2 separate regions of the Homo sapiens genome follow, and region 1 is linked to region 2. Evidence: fine-mapped expression QTL. A gene starts in region 2. The other region holds a variant in brackets. All regions are shown on one strand. Distances are between the middles of the regions. Region 1 has its middle 25 kb from the start of UQCRFS1-DT. Region 2 holds the start of UQCRFS1-DT (UQCRFS1 divergent transcript).

Region 1 (8,340 bases), 24 kb before region 2:
AGATAAATAATTTGAAATGAAAAATTTAAATCCTACATTTTTAGCTGCTAAATGTGGCAACCCTAATTCCTGCCCTTCAACCCTAAGATTTCACTTCTGTGAATCAATTATAAGTAAATAATCTTACATACAAAAAAGTTTTATGTGAGGATCTTCAAGCGTTTTGAAAGTAAGTGTTGAAAATTTGAAAAATATATCCACTGGTAGGAAAACTGGTAGGAAAACGGTTAAATAAATGAGGGTCTATCTGCCTGATTGAATATTATAGAGTCAAACATTTTTGTTCCTGAAGAATATGCAGTAACATGGGGAATGCTTACGACATAAGAGAAAAAAGCAGGGAATACAATTATGTAAACTGAGGGTTTAAAACTCTGTAAAAATGATCCTTAAATACAGAAGAATACTGACAGGAAAATTGGTTAAATGTTAATAATGGTTATATCTGCATGGTAACATTATGGCTTTTTTCTTTTTTCTACTTCTGTGCACATCTCAAATTCTCTGTAATAAGCAAGAACTACTTTAGCTATAAAAACTGCTTCTCTATATTTGTGACTTGGGGGAAGAAAGAAGGAGGCTGGGTGCCGGGACGCTTGGGTCCTCATGCTGGGTCACACTGATGGTGTGGCCCTGGCAGAGTCACGTTGCTTCTTGGGACCTCTATTTTCTCATCCATAATATGAGAGCTGGACATATCAGTCTACACAACCCCATACTGCCCTAAAAATCTTTTATTCTTCTGGATTATTATTATTATGATTTGCCTCTTCTCATTTATTCTCTTTCTTAATTTCCCTCTCCTTTTCTCCTTTCTTTTCCTTTCTTTCCTCCTTTCTTCCCTCTCTTTTCTCCTTGCTTCCCTTTCTTAATTTCCCTCTCCCTTCCTTTCTCTTGTCTTGCTCTTTCTCATTCTCCAACCTGCTCAGTGTCAGAACTCTTAACATGCAAACATCAAACTGCTGCCAAATTCCAACCAGCCTATAAAACAAGCAAGATTTATTCCTACTGGAATAAACTGTTGGAAATCAAGGAAAGCACAGCTTCAGGAATGGCATGATCAGGGTGCCCTATTTTGCTTGATCTCCCTCTGGGTCCTTCTGTGTGTGCTGGCTTTGGCCCTGGGCTGACTTCCCTTTTTGCAGCCATAGTTGTTCCCACAATTTTAGGTTTCCTGCCTGCACATCACAGAATCCAGTTGGTGAGTGTTCCTGTCTCAACATTGCAGAAGGGTCACCTCTAAACTAATGACCAGGTCTGGGAAATGGAATACCTGAATTTATTTCAGCCACTAAAAGCCCCAATCTGGAATTCTGGGTCGGGCCATGAGCTGAGGTGGATTCCTGAAGAAAAAGCTGGGTATCAGTAGGAAGTGAACAGAAAAAGGACCCTGGGTTGGCACCCCCAAATGCTCATTACATCAATCGGCACGCATTTGGGGGCATCAGCTGATCCCCCAGCACCGCGCAAGGCCTTGGGATCAACTTGGGGGAGATCAGATGATTTACCTTCCTCAGTAGCATTTCTACTCACCTCCCAGAGCAAGTGCAGAGCAGCTTAGGGCAGGAGATGGCACTGTTGAAGCCATTTCTGGGTCTTAAATCAGATGTGTTTCTGTGTGTGTGGATTATCTGGGTGGAGGCTGCCATTGTCTCACTGGCTTTGTGTGTTTCTAGCATGATGGGACCCCTGGGATATGAGGGGGTCCTAAGCACCCTGACCATCTTCTCCCCATAGTTGAACTTCCCTGCCCTATTCTAAAGTTGCACACTCAGACAAAAGCCATGTTCTCCCCATCTCTCTCTTCTTTTTTATCTTCCATCTCTAACTTACAAAGTCATTTTTTAAAAAAGTCCATGTTCCCCTGCTGAGACTTTGCCTAATGAAGTATTTTATACTATTCGATCCTTTAAAAAGAATGAGGGTGAGTGTTTATTAAATTAATTTTTGCTTTAATGTATTTCCTCCATATTTCATGCTGTGGACACAACTGTTTCTGCAAATGACTTTTTCCAAGATGTCTGATTTATTTTTAATTGCCTCTGTCCCTTGGGTTTGTTCCACGCTACAATTGTTATTTCTATTTGTGTGGTGGTTAAAGCCTAGAGATACAACAGGTAAAGGCTTCTCCCTTTGGGGGAAAGAAGGCTGTGACTCTGAAGGGTGGAAAAAGATCCTTTCTGAATAGGAGCTTCAGAAACTTGTGTTTCTGAAAGTAACACAAGTTACTTTCCTGTGGCTTCCAGAATTGAAATACAGATAACCTTTTCTCTCCTCTGTAAAACACCTTCGGTATAGAAAGCTGGTTTACATGCACTATCTCAAATGCTCCACGTTTTGGTGAGGGCTTTCCCCACAACTTATGAGGTAATTAAATGAGAGGTTATTCCTATTTTGAGGGTAAAAGTAGAAACTCGCTAAATGTTTGTAATAGCACCTGTGGAGTGTACAGTTTTGACCTTGAAGATAAGCATCTTTTCATAATTCTACTCTATGTCCCCTCAAAAAGAAAAAAGATTCCAACCCCCAAAGGATGTTTTTGCCTTAAATATTTGTGTTTTCAAAACACAATACAGAAATAATATAAGTTGTATTCATTGTGAAAAAATGGAAAGAAAATGAAAACAATGAGTGTTTGTGTTGTGTGTGTGTGTGTGTGTGTGTGTGTACACATGCACTAATCAGCCCCCCACCTGGAAGTGACCATTGTCTGGAAAGACAGGGGGGTTAAGCTAGGTTCTGGGGTAAGTTCTGACCTGCTGGGATTTCATCTGCCCATCAGATCCCTCCACATTTCTCCCTACCTCCTGCTCCACCATCTTTAAACCCAGTGGGTGCAGGGAGTGCACATCTGCTGTCATTGCCTGCTCAGTTCATTCTCTCTTCTCAACCTCAGTGTCCCTCTGGGAAACCACCAACTCACTATCAACCCTTGCAGTGAGTGGAATGATTGATGCCAACCTCAGAGTCAAGAGTGGTCATGTGATCTAGACTTAGCCAATCAGAAACAGTGATAACGAAAAGCTGTGCCTCTTGGAAAACACTAGCTCTGTTTCTGCCAGACATGAAGATGAACGTGGCCATCCTGCCATAGAAGACATTGCTCAAGAGGGAGTCCACACAGAATAAAGTAGAGCTGGGAGGCTGAGGGGAGGCTGAGGGTGAGACCATATCCTCATGCTGGGGTTTTCTGTTCACATGAGCTAATGCATTTATTTTTTGCTAACTCCAGCTGGAGTTGCATTTTCTGCCATCAGCTCAAAGTGAGGAATGGTTGCTCATGTGCTTATCAGAGTGGAAACAGGATAGTTATTTTTAAAAGAAAAATTTATTTTTGAACTTCCCCAGTTCAGTGCTTACTGAAAAGCTGCAGAGAGGAGATTTTCCTCAAAAGTTTCTCAGGATACTAGACGGGGTGAGATTTCTGCTACTGACTGAATTCTGCTAGGATTTATAATTTACTTTCTTTGTGGTCAGAGGACATACTTTGTAAGATTTCATTCTTTAGAAATCTATTGAATTTGTTTGATGACATAGTGTATGATCTACTAGATGCACATCCATTTGCACTTGAAATGAATGTGTTCTGCAGTTGTTTGGTGTAGGGTTCTATCAATGTCAAGTAGGTGAAGGTGGTTGATAATGTTCTTCAGACATTCCATACTTTTACTGGTTTCTTGTCTAGTAGTTCTCTTTGCCCCCTGAGAGAGGTGCACTAACGTCTCTTACTATGACTGTGGCTTTGTCTATTTTGCTTTTTAATTTTGTCAATTTTTATGCATGTATTTGGAAGATCTGTTATTAGGCACCTACACCTTTATAAATGCCATATCTTCCTGATTGTATTGACTCTTTTTTAAATTTTTTAATTTATTTTTATTTTTGAGATAGAGTCTCACTCTGTCGCCCAGGCTGGAGTGCAGTGGCACGACATCAGCTCACGGCCAGCTCTGCCCCTGGGTTCACACCATTCTCCTGTCTCAGCCTCCCGAGTAGCTGGGACCACAGGCGCCCGCCACCACGCCCGGCTAATTTTTTGTATTTTTAGTAGAGACGCGGTTTCACCATGTTAGCCAGGATGGTCTCGATCTCCTGACCTGGTGATCTGCCCACCTCAGCCTCCCAAAGTGCTGGGATTGCAGGCAAGAGTCACCACGCCTGGCCTGACTCTTTTGTAGTAATGCAAAGTTCTTCTTCCCCTCTAGTAATAATAGCACTTGTTTTGAAATCTATTTTGACTAATATTATTATGACCACTTCAGCTTTTGTATGTTTACATTTTGCATTTTTTTTGCATATTTTTCTTTCAATATATTTTTCTTGTATTTGAATTTAAATTGTGTCTATTGTAAAGAGCATATACTTGATTCTTGCTTTTTCTTTTTCTTTTTTTTCTTTTTGAGACAGGATTCTTTCTCTGTCACCCAGTCTGGAGTGCAATGACGTGAACATGGCTCACTGTAGCCTCAAACTTCCAGGCTCAAGCGATACCTCCACCTTTTTTTTTTTTTTTTTTTTTTTTGGTATAGTTGCGGTATCACCATGTTCCCCAGGCTGGTCTGACATTTTGGGGCTTAAGCAGTCCTCCTGCCTCAACCTCCAAAATGCTGGAATTACAGACATAAGCCACTGTGTCTGGCCAATTCTTGCTTTTTATCCAACCCTTAAAAATCTCTGCCTTTTGATTGAAGTGAATATTCTTTATACATTTAATGTAATTATTGACATGGTGTATCAAAGTTTGCCATTTTTCTATTTATTTTCTATTTGCCTAATCTATTTGGTGTTGTTCTCCCCTTGTTCTTACTTTCTGGTCTTCTTTTTTGTTAAAATATTTTAGTATTTCATCTAAATTCCTTATTGGCTTTCTATCTATATATTTTGCAGGAGAGGCATTCATACCTGTAAGCCCAGTATTTTGGGAGGTGGAAGCAGAAGGACTGCTTTAGACCAGCCTAGCAACACAGCAAGGCCTCATCTCTACAAAAAAAAAAAAAAAAAACCTCCAGGCATGGTGGCACACATCTGTAGCCTGGGCAACAGAGTGAGACCCTGTCTCCAAAATATACATATTTGCCTTATGTTTTTAGTGGTTCCTAATAGGATTACTATAGCTACCTTTAACTTAACCCATTCTACTTATGGTTAATATCAACTTACTTTACACAAAATATAGGAAACTTGAAATAGTATGTTTCCATTTGCCACCCTATTTTTAGTGTTATTT[T/A]TATATATATATATACACACACACACATTATAAACCCATTTGTGCAGTATTACAATTTTTGCTTTAAACAATCATATTTTTAAAAGAAGAAAATTAAACAAATGGTCCTTTGTATTTATGAACATATCCACTATTTTCAGAGCTCTTTATTTCTTCAGCTTAAAGGACCTCCTTTACTTTTTTTGTAGTGCAGGTCTGTTGGTGGTAACAAATTATCACAGTATTTGTTTTCTAAAAGTGTCTCTATTTAACCTTCATTTTTGAGGCATATTTTATCTGAATATAGTATTCTTGGTTGACTGTTCTTTTCCACCCTACAGTACTTGAATTATATTGTTTCTATTTCTTTTGGCATCCATAGCTCATGATAAGAAATCAGTGATTATTCTTACTGGTTTTCTTCTGGAGTCACTTTGGCTGAATGTTTTCAAAATTTTATCTTTCTTTGGCTTTCTGAATGTTGAGTATTATATATCCAGTAGAATTTTCTTTAGTTTTATTATACTTGGGGTTTATCGAGTTCTTGCATCTGTAAGTTAATTTTTTCAACAGAAATTGGAGCTTTTGAGGCTATTCTTTCTCTAAATATTTTTTTCTTTCCTTTTCTGTTGCTCCTCTCATTCTGGGATTCTAATGACCTGCATTTCAGACCACACACTATAGTCTCACACATCTCTGAAAGTATTTTTATTTTTAAAACCTTTTTTGTGTATGTACCTAAGACTGAATTAATTTCTATTGATCTGTCTTCAAGTTTACTACTATTTTCTTTCACTTAAAATATGCTAGGCTGAGCACAGTGGCTCATGCCTGTAATCTCAGCACTTTAGGAGGCCAAAGAGGATGGATTGCTTGAGCCAAGGAGTTCAAGGCCAGCTTGGGAAAAATGGCAACACCCCATCTCTACAAAAAATGCAAGAAATTAGCCAGGCATGGTGGCACATGCCTGTGGTCCCAGCTTCTCAGGAGGCTGAGATGGGAGGATCACTTGAGTCTTGAGATGGAGGTTGCAGTGAGCCCAGGTTGCACCACTGCACTCCAGCCTGGGCAACAGAGTGAGACCTTGTCTCAAAAAAGTAAAAAGAAAATATGCTATGGAGCCTATCTAGTGAGTGCCATACAAGTGTCATTGTCCCCCTTCCTTTGTCGGACTGGGTGATTGTTCTCCCATTTTTCAGTAGAGTGTAATAAGTAAGCCAGCCTTGCCTTCTAGCAAGCATTTTTTTCCATTGATAATAATTTAGGCTCCTAGGATAAGAAGGCAAGGTTCCCTGTGAAAGGAAGAGAACAGGGTTTGAGGCAATGGTGGTAGTAGAAATGGCTAAAATATCTCTCAGGAAAGCAGGGAGGAAGAAGAGTTAGGTGGGAGTGAGGTGTCAGGCTCCTGGGAAAACTATGTAAGGAGGAAACGTACTGGGGAAAGCCAGGGGCTATAGCCTGTCGAAGGTCTGGGAGAAACCACATGTGTGTGTGTTCAGGGATGGCAAGGCAGTGAATTCTTCAGCAGGCCACCCAGCTCTATGCCCCACTCACACCTGCAGACTCTATTTGCTTGGGTTTGAGAGTCAGCATTGCATAGAGGTGAGTACTTCATGTTGTCAGTGTCCAGCACTGTGCCCCTTGGCCACCCAGCAGAGGTGACACTCACACCTGTCCTGGGAGTCCATCCAGTCCCAGATCATTACCTCATGTGATACACCAGCCCCTTCACAAAGCTCCAGGACACTGTAAACCCAGGAAAAGGATATCTCACCTGTTTCTGGGGGGTAGTGCTGAACTTGGACTTGAGAAGCCCTGCCACTGTGACAGAGTTTACCGACCTGTTGGTAAACCCCAGTGATATGGAAAGTCCCCGCTAAGGGGAGCGTCTGACCCTCACAGTGACCTGGAGAGGCAGGTGCTATCCCATTTAACAGAGGATAAGTGAAACCTCAGAGAATCCAGTGCCTGGTCTCACTGCCACGAAGGAGATGAGCCCAGGAAGTCTGGCTCCAGAACCAGTCCATTTAATTACTGTGCTCTCTACCCACACAGGAAGGGCTCAGAAGCAGTTTGCCAAGCTCACTCCAGAATGTGTGTGTTTGTGTGTTTGTGTGTGTGTGTTCTTTTTTTTGTTTTTTAAGTGTTAGTTCAAAGCTGCAGCACCCAGGATGGGGTCAGTCACATTCATAATCTACATACATTCTTAGAGATGCCCAACTGGGCTGCCTCAGGTGCACAACTGGGCAGCCTTGGCATTCTGTGCTTTTCTAGGGATAGGGGTGGGAATGGAGGGAGGAGCCAGTCTAGCAGGATTGTCCGGGAGACCTCTGATGGCACCCATGAAAGCTCCCTGAATACAGTCTGAACTCAGGCCCTCAGGCTACAGGTGCAGAATTGAGGCCAATAAAGAGAATGTGGCCTGCTAACAAATGAGCCATTGGAAGGTATAGACCAACAACACAGATCTCTTTCCATGCATCCATCCATCCATCCATGTATGTATTCATCAATTCATCCATCTATCCAGTCCGCTGTTATCCATCCGTCCACCATACACCCATGCATCCATCAATTCATCCATCCATGTATCCATTCACCTATCCATACAGTGATCATTCATCCATCCGTCCATGTATCCACTCACCTATCCATCTATTCATTCATCCATCCATTCATCTATCCATTTATCCATCCATCTATCCATCTACCCATCCACCAGATACTTACTGAGCTACCATGTTCTAGGTGCTGTATTGAAAGCTGGGGATTGGTGGAAGGCAGGGCAGACACAGTGCCTGTCCTCATGGAGTTGATATTTGCTAGAAGGCTTTTGATCTGTCCCTCTCCCAGCCAATGCAGAGCTGTGTCCGTAGTATCCCTCACACCTTATTTTTCCTATAATTGTTTTTTCTTGTAAGCAGTATTCTTCTGGAAGCCCCAGGAGAGGACCTGTGCCTCCTCTGACTCTCAGTGTGGTGAGAACTGTGTCATGGAAGAGAAAACCTAGGCCCTGGTGTCAGGCTCACTTGGGTTCGAATTCTGGCTCTGCCCCTTCAGCTAGTCACTGAACACTGTGCCTGAGTTTTTCACCCCTGACACAAAGATCATAAGATCTACCTTGCAGGGCTGAT
Region 2 (8,340 bases):
TATCATCTTTCAAAGAAGTAGGGGCACAGAATTACAGAAACGGGTTTTATGGAACACAAATGCCTTTTAAATGGCTTAGATTAAGGACAGTCTGTGCAGTTCTCAAGCGGCTGTCTGTCTTCACATCTCGCTGCTCAAGTGAGGGACGTGGGCTGTGGGGAGAGGCTGAAACTGTCAAGATGGCTGCAACTGGAAATGGGAAGCCAGGCATTTCCCGGGGTAATTGTGTGGAAACAGGAGACAGGCGTGGGGTCCCTTCAGCAGGGAGGCGGTTGCCTTTCTGTGTAGGCACTAGGTGAGATGAAAGTGGCTGGGAGGCATGTTCCCTGGGGATGAGGCAAAGGCATCTTACTGGCTTTGCACATTATGCAGGATCACAGGCAGAACTACCTAGGGACCAATTTTGTTTTGAGGATGACGAATGCAGAATCCCAGCACATTTGCCTTAGAGCTCCCCTCCCTATGCCCCCTCAACACACATTGCCCAGATGAACACATCAAGGCAGTAGGGAAGAGGGCTGGGGGCGGTGGTTTGCGCCTGTAATCCCAGCACTTTGGGAGGCTGTGGCGGGCGGATCATGTGAGGTCAAGAGTTTGAGATCACCCTGGCCAACATGGCGAAACCCTAACTCTACTAAAAATACAAAAATTAGCTGGGCATGGTGGCATGTGCCTGTGATCCCAGCTATTCGGGAGGCTGAGGCAGAATTGCTTGAACCCAGGAGGCAGAGGTTGCAGTGAGCCGAGATCACACCACTGCACTCCAGCCTGGGCAACAGAGCAAAACTTTGTCTCAAAAAAAAAAAAAAAAAAAAAAAAGACTGTAGGGAACAGGAAGTGTCTAGACTACAACTCACACTTGGAACTAGGAGATTCCCCTGCATATCAGTGTTCTGCTACTCTCCGGAATCAATCGATCATGCTTGTGCAAGGAATTATATAAACCTGAGGTCCCAAACTCGAGGCCTCAGCAGATGGGCAGGTAATGTAACTGAATGGACACAGTGGGAAAGGACCCAGACCACCAAGCAGGTACCTACCCTGGCTGACAGCACCCCACCGTCTTTCTCTTTGTTGAGGACATGGGCCTCGAGTGGCTTAAAATAATGCAATTTTATTATTTTACAATTCTGGAGGTCTGAAGCCTAACACAGGTCTGTAGGGCTGCACTTCTTCTGGAGACTCTAAGGGAGAAGGTTTCCTTTCCATTTCCAGCTCTATCTCTGCCTGCAGGTCCCTCCTCTGGCCCCACCCTCAAAGCCAGCAATGTGGCATTTCTGTCCTCTCACCTCTTGCTTCCCTCTTCTAAGACCCTATGAACATGCCGCACCCACCCGGACACTGCAGGAAGACTCTCTGATATGGTTTGGCTCTGTGTCCCCACCCAGATCTCACCTTGAATTGTTACAATCCCCTTGAATTGTAACAAGGGGGGGACCAGGTGGAGGTGATGGATCATGGGGGCGGTTTCCCCCATGCTGTTCTCATGACAGTGAGTTCTCATGAGATCTGACAGTTTTATAAGGGGTTCCCCCTTCGCTCTGCTCTTATTTTCTCTCCTGCCACCCTGTGAAGAGGTGCCTCCTACCATGATTGTAAATTTCCTGAGGGCGCCCCCCCAACCAGCCGTGCTGAGCTGTAAGTGAATTAAACCTCTTTTCTTTGTAAATTACCCAGTCTCAGGTATTTCTTCATAGCCGCATGACAACAGACTAATACACTCTCCCTATCTCAATCTCCAATCACAGCTGCAACATTCCTTTGCTGTGTAAAGTAACATATTCCCAGGTTCCAGGGATTAGGCTGTGGACATTTTTGTGGGGAGGCATTATTCCATCTACCACAGTTTGTATGTGGGAGTACTCACAATTTGTAAATGCTAGCAAATAATTCTGAGGTTCATAGCACTGTGTATGCCAGATCACCAGGTGTCTCTGGGCAGAAATGAGTGGGGAGAGAATGAATCTCCAGTCCATGACTTCCGACCTCTGATTTAAACAGTGTTTGTTAAAAGGAAGGCTTGGTGTCATGCTTCCTCCTGCCTTGTTCATACATACACATTGCGTGTCAGACTTCCAGGGAACTGAGAAGCTTACCAAGCATTTATGTTCCCAGGCCTGTGGCTATTTTTTTCCCTCAGTTTACAAAACTAACAATGTTTATTAAGCTCTCATTGTATGCCAGTGTGCTAAATATCTCACATGGATTCTTTCTTTTAATTTGCACAGCAATGTCATTTTTATCCCTGTTTTACAAATAAGAAATCTGACACTCAGTAACGTTGCCCGATGTCACACAGGTAGTAAGGGGCAGAGCTGCCATGAAGGCCAGGCTGTCTGGCTCCAGAGTGAGCTGATACATGAAAGCTAAAACCCCCTTCAGTTAAATAACAACCACTGAGGGGTTGCAGTGGTGTGTACCTGTAGTCCCAGCTACTCTGGAGGCTAAGGGAGGAGGACTGCTTCAGGCCAGGAGTTTGAGACCAGCCTGGGCAACACAGCAAGACCCCCATCTACCAAGTGGAACCCAGGTTGGCCTACAGAAGTCCAAGTTCCAGTATGCCTGCCACTCCTGGACATTGGCCTCCTTCTTCCACGAGAAGACAGCTGTTCGGCCATACAGTTACCCATCTCTCTGCTGCAACGCTGGACTCGAACACCACTACCAGATGCGTTCTTATCAATGTGTCTTTGGGCATGTCATTTGTCTTCTCTGAGTCTTAGTTTCTTCATCTAGAAAATAGAAAGTTATTATTATTGCAGATATTTACATACTGTGTGCCAGGCACAGTTCTAGGCATTTTACATGTATTAATCCATCTCATCCTTAAAATAACTCTCTAGGGTAGATCCTGTTATTATCTCTGTTTTACAAGAGAAAGACGGAGGCACACACAGAGATTAAATAACTTGCCCTAGGGCACAGCTAGTGAGTGGTGAAACTAAAATTGAACCCAGGAGGTCTGGAGATAATTCCTATTCTGTTCACCCAACTGGGACATTGTGAAGGTTTTGTGAAGGATCATTCATTCATTCATTCATTTTTCATTTCCTTACCAACTCAGAGGGAATTGTGATATTATTTCTTGTGAAGCACTCAAACCATGCATGCTGTGTGACAACTTCTCTGGAAATGTCTTTTATCCTAAGGTTGTTGCCAAGGGAGAGCACTGAGCCAGCTGTGTGATGAGCCTGGCTAGGGTGGCCCCTGAGGAGGCAGCCTCCAATCTTGAGAGTACAATATAGTCCCTTGGGCTATAAGGCTGGTCAAAGCCTAGGCCCTAAGGGGAGTCATAGGAAGGTCAAAGGGGAAACCTGTCAGTACACTTTGGACCTGGCATGAGGAATAACAACGAGTCAGCAAGGATCAAGGGAAGGCTTCTTAGAGGAGGTGGCATCTCAGATAAAAACACCACTAGCAAATCCTCACTTGGTGCTGCCTGTGTGCTGGGCCTGCTTGTAGATGCTTTACACGTTTTAGTTCATTTACTCCTCCCAGTAACTTTACAACACACATGGCATCATTACTGCCCCCATTTGGCAGGTGAGGAAACTGAGGCACAGAGAGGTGAGGGAACTTGCCCAGATCACAGAGCCCATGCACAGCACAGAGCCAATTCTGTGCACTGCTTATATTAACATTTACTTAATATTTAAATTATTTTTGACCTAAATGAAAAACTTTATCTCAGTATAGTACAGAATAGAAAACCAGTATGGATAGAAAATCAATACTATGAACCATATAATGAAATCACTCTAGACTCAGTTCTCTGCTAAGAGCTTCTAACTCAAGATCTTTTCTGTTAAAAGTGGGAGATAAGTGTAGAGAGGAATTAAAGATATATTAGGATCAAACTGAGGCCAAGTGAATTTGCTCATGCCTATAATCCCAGTACTTTGGGAGGGGGAGACAGGACTCCTTGAGGCCAGAAGTTCGAGACTGGAGTGGGCAATATAGTGAGACCTCATCTCTACTTTTTTTTTTTTTTAATTAAAGATGTATTAGCACCAAACTGAGACTTTCTCATTGGTGCAATCAGGATTGAAAAACAAAACAAAAGAAAACAAAACTTTCTCACTATGTGATGGAACATGAATGAGCGAGCTCTGTGCATCCTCTAAAATTCTAAAATCCTACTTTGGGAAACAGTGGTGGCACTGAAGAGCATAGACTCAGGAGACAGATTACCCTGCTTCACATCTTGCTGGCTATCCAGTTCCTGGAAAAGAATCTCTCTAAACCTCGGTTTCTTCATGGGTAAAATGCTGATAGTAATAGCTCTGACTTCATAGAGACCTTGATAACAAATGAAAGAACGTAGGTATAATAAAACGCAAAACCAAATACACAGTGAATACTTAATAAACATAATCCATTAGCATTATCGAGCTTTGCACAGATGCCTCTGGCCTTTTTGTTGTTGTTGTTGTTAGATGAAGATAATAAAAATCATCATAGTAAACACATAGCGATTACTATGTGCTGGACTTCGTCGTAGTTGAGATATATTACCATCCTAAGTTAAACTATAATCGTTTATTGTTATCTCTAGGTCTTCCTAGATGAAATTTTTACCCTAAAGGATCGTAAAGTCGGCCCACCGGACGTCAGTGGGGTCCCCTGTTCAGCCCTCTCGTTCTTCTGGGGATCTCTCGGGACACTGACGAGGTGGCACCGGGACCTACAGGTGGGCCGCAAGCCCCGCCCCCAGCGACGGCTTGTAGCCCCGTCCCCCGACGCAGCGCCTCTCCAAGTTTGCCCCGCCCTGCAGGACTGCAGAATTTCCTTTCCGGCGGCGCGCTGTCGTCACGCGTCCCGCGCCTCCTCGCGCCTGCGCCGTGGTTGGAAGGTCGTCCCTGTGACCGGCTTGGCGGTTGGAGCGGCTGTCGCCATGTTGTCGGTAGCATCCCGCTCAGGCCCGTTCGCGCCCGTCCTGTCGGCCACGTCCCGCGGGGTGGCGGGCGCGCTGCGGCCCTTGGTGCAGGCCACGGTGCCCGCCACCCCGGAGCAGCCTGTGTTGGACCTGAAGCGGCCCTTCCTCAGCCGGGAGTCGCTGAGCGGCCAGGCCGTGCGCCGGCCTTTGGTCGCCTCCGTGGGCCTCAATGGTGAGCCGGGGCGAGGGCCGCGAGCAGGGCTGGGGGTCTCTCGGTGCCCGCTCCTCCGGCCCCCAGCAGGGAGCGGCCGCGGGCGCGCGAGCGGAGCCTGAATCAGGTCGGGCTGGGCGGCCTCCGCAACTCTGGGCCTGGCCCCCGGGCTCGGGGCGTCTTTCTGGTGGCCGGCCTGGACTCGCGTCCGCCGGCTTCGCCTGGTTCCTCCTCGGCCGAGTTCACGAGCTCTGTAGTCCCGCTGTTCCAGCCACCTCTGAGGGGTTTTGTTGCTTGCAGGTCGTTTGACCTTGGGCGAGTTTCTAAACGTACTTCCTGTGAAATGGATTCATATCTTTATCAATTTTGTAGGGGTGTCGTGAGGCTTAGGTGGAGGAATTCTACGTAAAGCCGTTAGCACAGTTTGGGCACTTACATGCTTAAGAAATGGAAACTTACTAATATTTGGGAAGTTGGTCTTCTCACCACTACCGATCCCTTCATGTCCTTCCCCTTCATCACCCCCCCACCAAAAAAAAAACAAAAAAAACATACACAAGGTCAGTTACAGTGTAGTGTCACAACATAATCAGTCGTCAAGGACGGGCAGAGATTGACGACATTTACATTTTACAGATGAGAAAACAGACGAGGTAGAATGACTCGCACCAGGATCCGTGGTGTGGACATGTGGTAGCAGGGATTTGACAAGACGAATTGTCGTAGCCACTGAGCTCTTCGCAGGGGCTATTCCACACCCTCTGTCCTTAGATCCCCGTTTATCTTCTTTGCCTCGCCTTCCATCTTTACTTGGCCCTGTATCGGAGATAGAGAAATGGCAGCCTGTGGGCAGTGTGTCTGCAGGCTGTGTAGTTTTCAAAAAAACTGGGAAGACTAATGGCATCTCTTAAAATGCTGGAAGCCGGTAATACTGGGATCTAGTTTCTACTTGGGAAAATTCCATAGTGTGCTGTGTAGTGGCCGCCCCCGCAGTTGGAGCAAGTGGTCTTCTCCAGTTTGTCACAGTCTTTACCAGGTCTGCGTGTTTCATTCTGTTACCAGCCTGGCTCCACTGATAGCTGTTTGTGACTCTTCCCCTACACGCTAACCAAATTGCCCGCCACTTTTCTTTTTACTCTGTCTTCATTCACCCTGGGCTCTGCACTTTCTTCATGGTCCTTCCACTAAGTTGCTACATGTCCATATGTTTTCCTTACCCATCTTTTCAATCTCAGTTAAGGATCAGGTGAATAAAGTTTTTATTTGCTGATTTGTCTGTCTCTGTAGCACATACACTTTACACTCTGTATTGTGTTTATTGGTAACTCCTCCACCCTTGGGCTTAAGGGCATAGAGAAGGTAATATCTTCTTTATTTTTCTATCTTTCACAACGTCGGATTTTGTATACAGTTAGTGCAAAGTATTTGTGAATGAATATTTGTTAAGGAGCATCAGTGGGTTTTGAAGAAACTGTCCATGGCAGGTGTAGAGTACCCTAGCCCATCCTTGGGACCTGGAGGTGAGAAGGAAGGAAGGAGAACATTTCAATAGCAAAAGAAAAGCATCTTTGGAATTCGTCGTGTTGCTAAAGTTTCTTCAAAAAATTGGAGGCTTACATTTCTCTGATGGCCAGTGATGCTGAGCATTTTTTCATGTGTTTTTTGGCTGCATAAATGTCTTCTTTTGAGAAGTGTCTGTTCATGTCCTTCGCCCACTTTTTGATGGGGTTGTTTGTTTTTTTCTTGTAAATTTGTTTGAGTTCATTGTAGATTCTGGATATTAGCCCTTTGTCAGATGAGTAGGTTGCAAAAATTTTCTCCCAATTTTTAGGTTGCCTGTAAACCACAATGAGATACCATCTCACACCAGTTAGAATGGCAGTCATTAAAAAGTCAGGAAACAACAGGTGCTGGAGAGGATGTGGAGAAATAGGAACACTTTTACACTGTTGGTGGGACTGTAAACTAGTTCAACCATTGTGGAAGTCAGTGTGGAGATTCCTCAGGGATCTAGAACTAGAAATACCATTTGACCCAGCCATCCCATTACTGGGTATATACCCAAAAGACTATAAATCATGCTGCTATAAAGACACATTTACATGTATGTTTATTGGGGCACTATTCACAATAGCAAAGACTTGGAACCAATCCAAATGTCCAACAATGATAGACCGGATTAAGAAAATGTGGCACATATACACCGTGGAATACTATGCAGCCATAAAAAATGATGAGTTCATGTCCTTTGTAGGGACATGGATGAAATTGGAAATCATCATTCTAAGTAAACTGTCGCAAGGACAAAAAACAAACACTGCATGTTCTCACTCATAGGTGGGAATTGAACAATGAGAACACATGGACACAGGAAGGGGAACATCACACTCTGGGGACTGTTGTGGGGTGGGGGGAGGGGGAGGGATAGCATTGGGAGATATACCTAATGCTAAATGATGAGTCAATGGGTGCAGCACACCAGCATGGCACATGTATACATATGTAACTAACCTGCACATTGTGCACATGTACCCTAAAACTTAAAGTATAATAAAAAAAAAATTGGAGGTTTACCTGACTTAGAGAAACTATTTTTAGAAACAGGCAAATAATGTAGAACCATAAGGCAAAAACCTTTTCTGTAATCATTTCAGCCTGTAATTTAAGTTCACATTATAGTCTGTCTAGATGGTTCATGGCAGGATGGCTTATGGGAGTGGAGGGGTTGGATCTGGAGAAGATTCTTGAATTGGAGAGGAAGGTTGTACTATTTTCATGCAGATTTCCAAGGCGCATTGGAGCTCAACCTTAAAATAAAACTTGTTTTGTTAAAATTCCTTAAATTTTCTCCTTTAAGTATTTGATTTTGCTTTAGGTTAGAATTAAATCTAGCATCTTACTGAAAGTCAGACCTAATGCAGCTCATGTAAATATTTGGAGAATGATTTTTGCAACAGGGCAGTTTAATTTCCGAAAGGATTCTTGGTGGTGTAGCCTACTAAAGTGTAACCAGCTAGATAGAGTGGGAGGAGACTTTTGCCACCAAATCTCTGAATGAGAAGGGCAAAGCCATTTTATTGAGTTTTCTTGTACATTTCCTTGTATACTGTTAAGGGTTGTGGATACTGTTTTTAATGTAGAAGTATGAACTTTTTATTCCTTTATCTTTTAGGGAGGAAGCTCATCTTTTCTGTAATCCCAGGTAGTGCTAGGAGCAAGTAATTTATGCTTAATTCCAAATGCCAGTATATAC

Evidence for each region. PIP is the estimated chance that this variant, and not a neighbour inherited with it, causes the effect.
Region 1: its variant is fine-mapped to the expression of UQCRFS1-DT in testis (GTEx, PIP 0.99).

What each region holds. Positions count from the first base shown.
Region 1 is chr19:29,234,045-29,242,384 of GRCh38, reverse strand. No RefSeq gene overlaps it. Among named protein-coding and RNA genes, the nearest start is that of UQCRFS1-DT, 25 kb to the right of the region's middle. The variant T/A (reference allele first, on the strand shown) is at 5,228.
Region 2 is chr19:29,209,673-29,218,012 of GRCh38, reverse strand. It overlaps UQCRFS1-DT (UQCRFS1 divergent transcript), which reads right to left and starts at 4,760. Exons shown (of 2, transcript NR_184022.1): 1 at 4,605-4,760; 2 at 2,198-2,732. UQCRFS1 (ubiquinol-cytochrome c reductase, Rieske iron-sulfur polypeptide 1) reads left to right here and starts at 4,862. Exons shown (of 2, transcript NM_006003.3): 1 at 4,862-5,108. The coding sequence starts at 4,895. RefSeq lists an enhancer at 4,679-4,918 and a silencer at 4,959-5,268.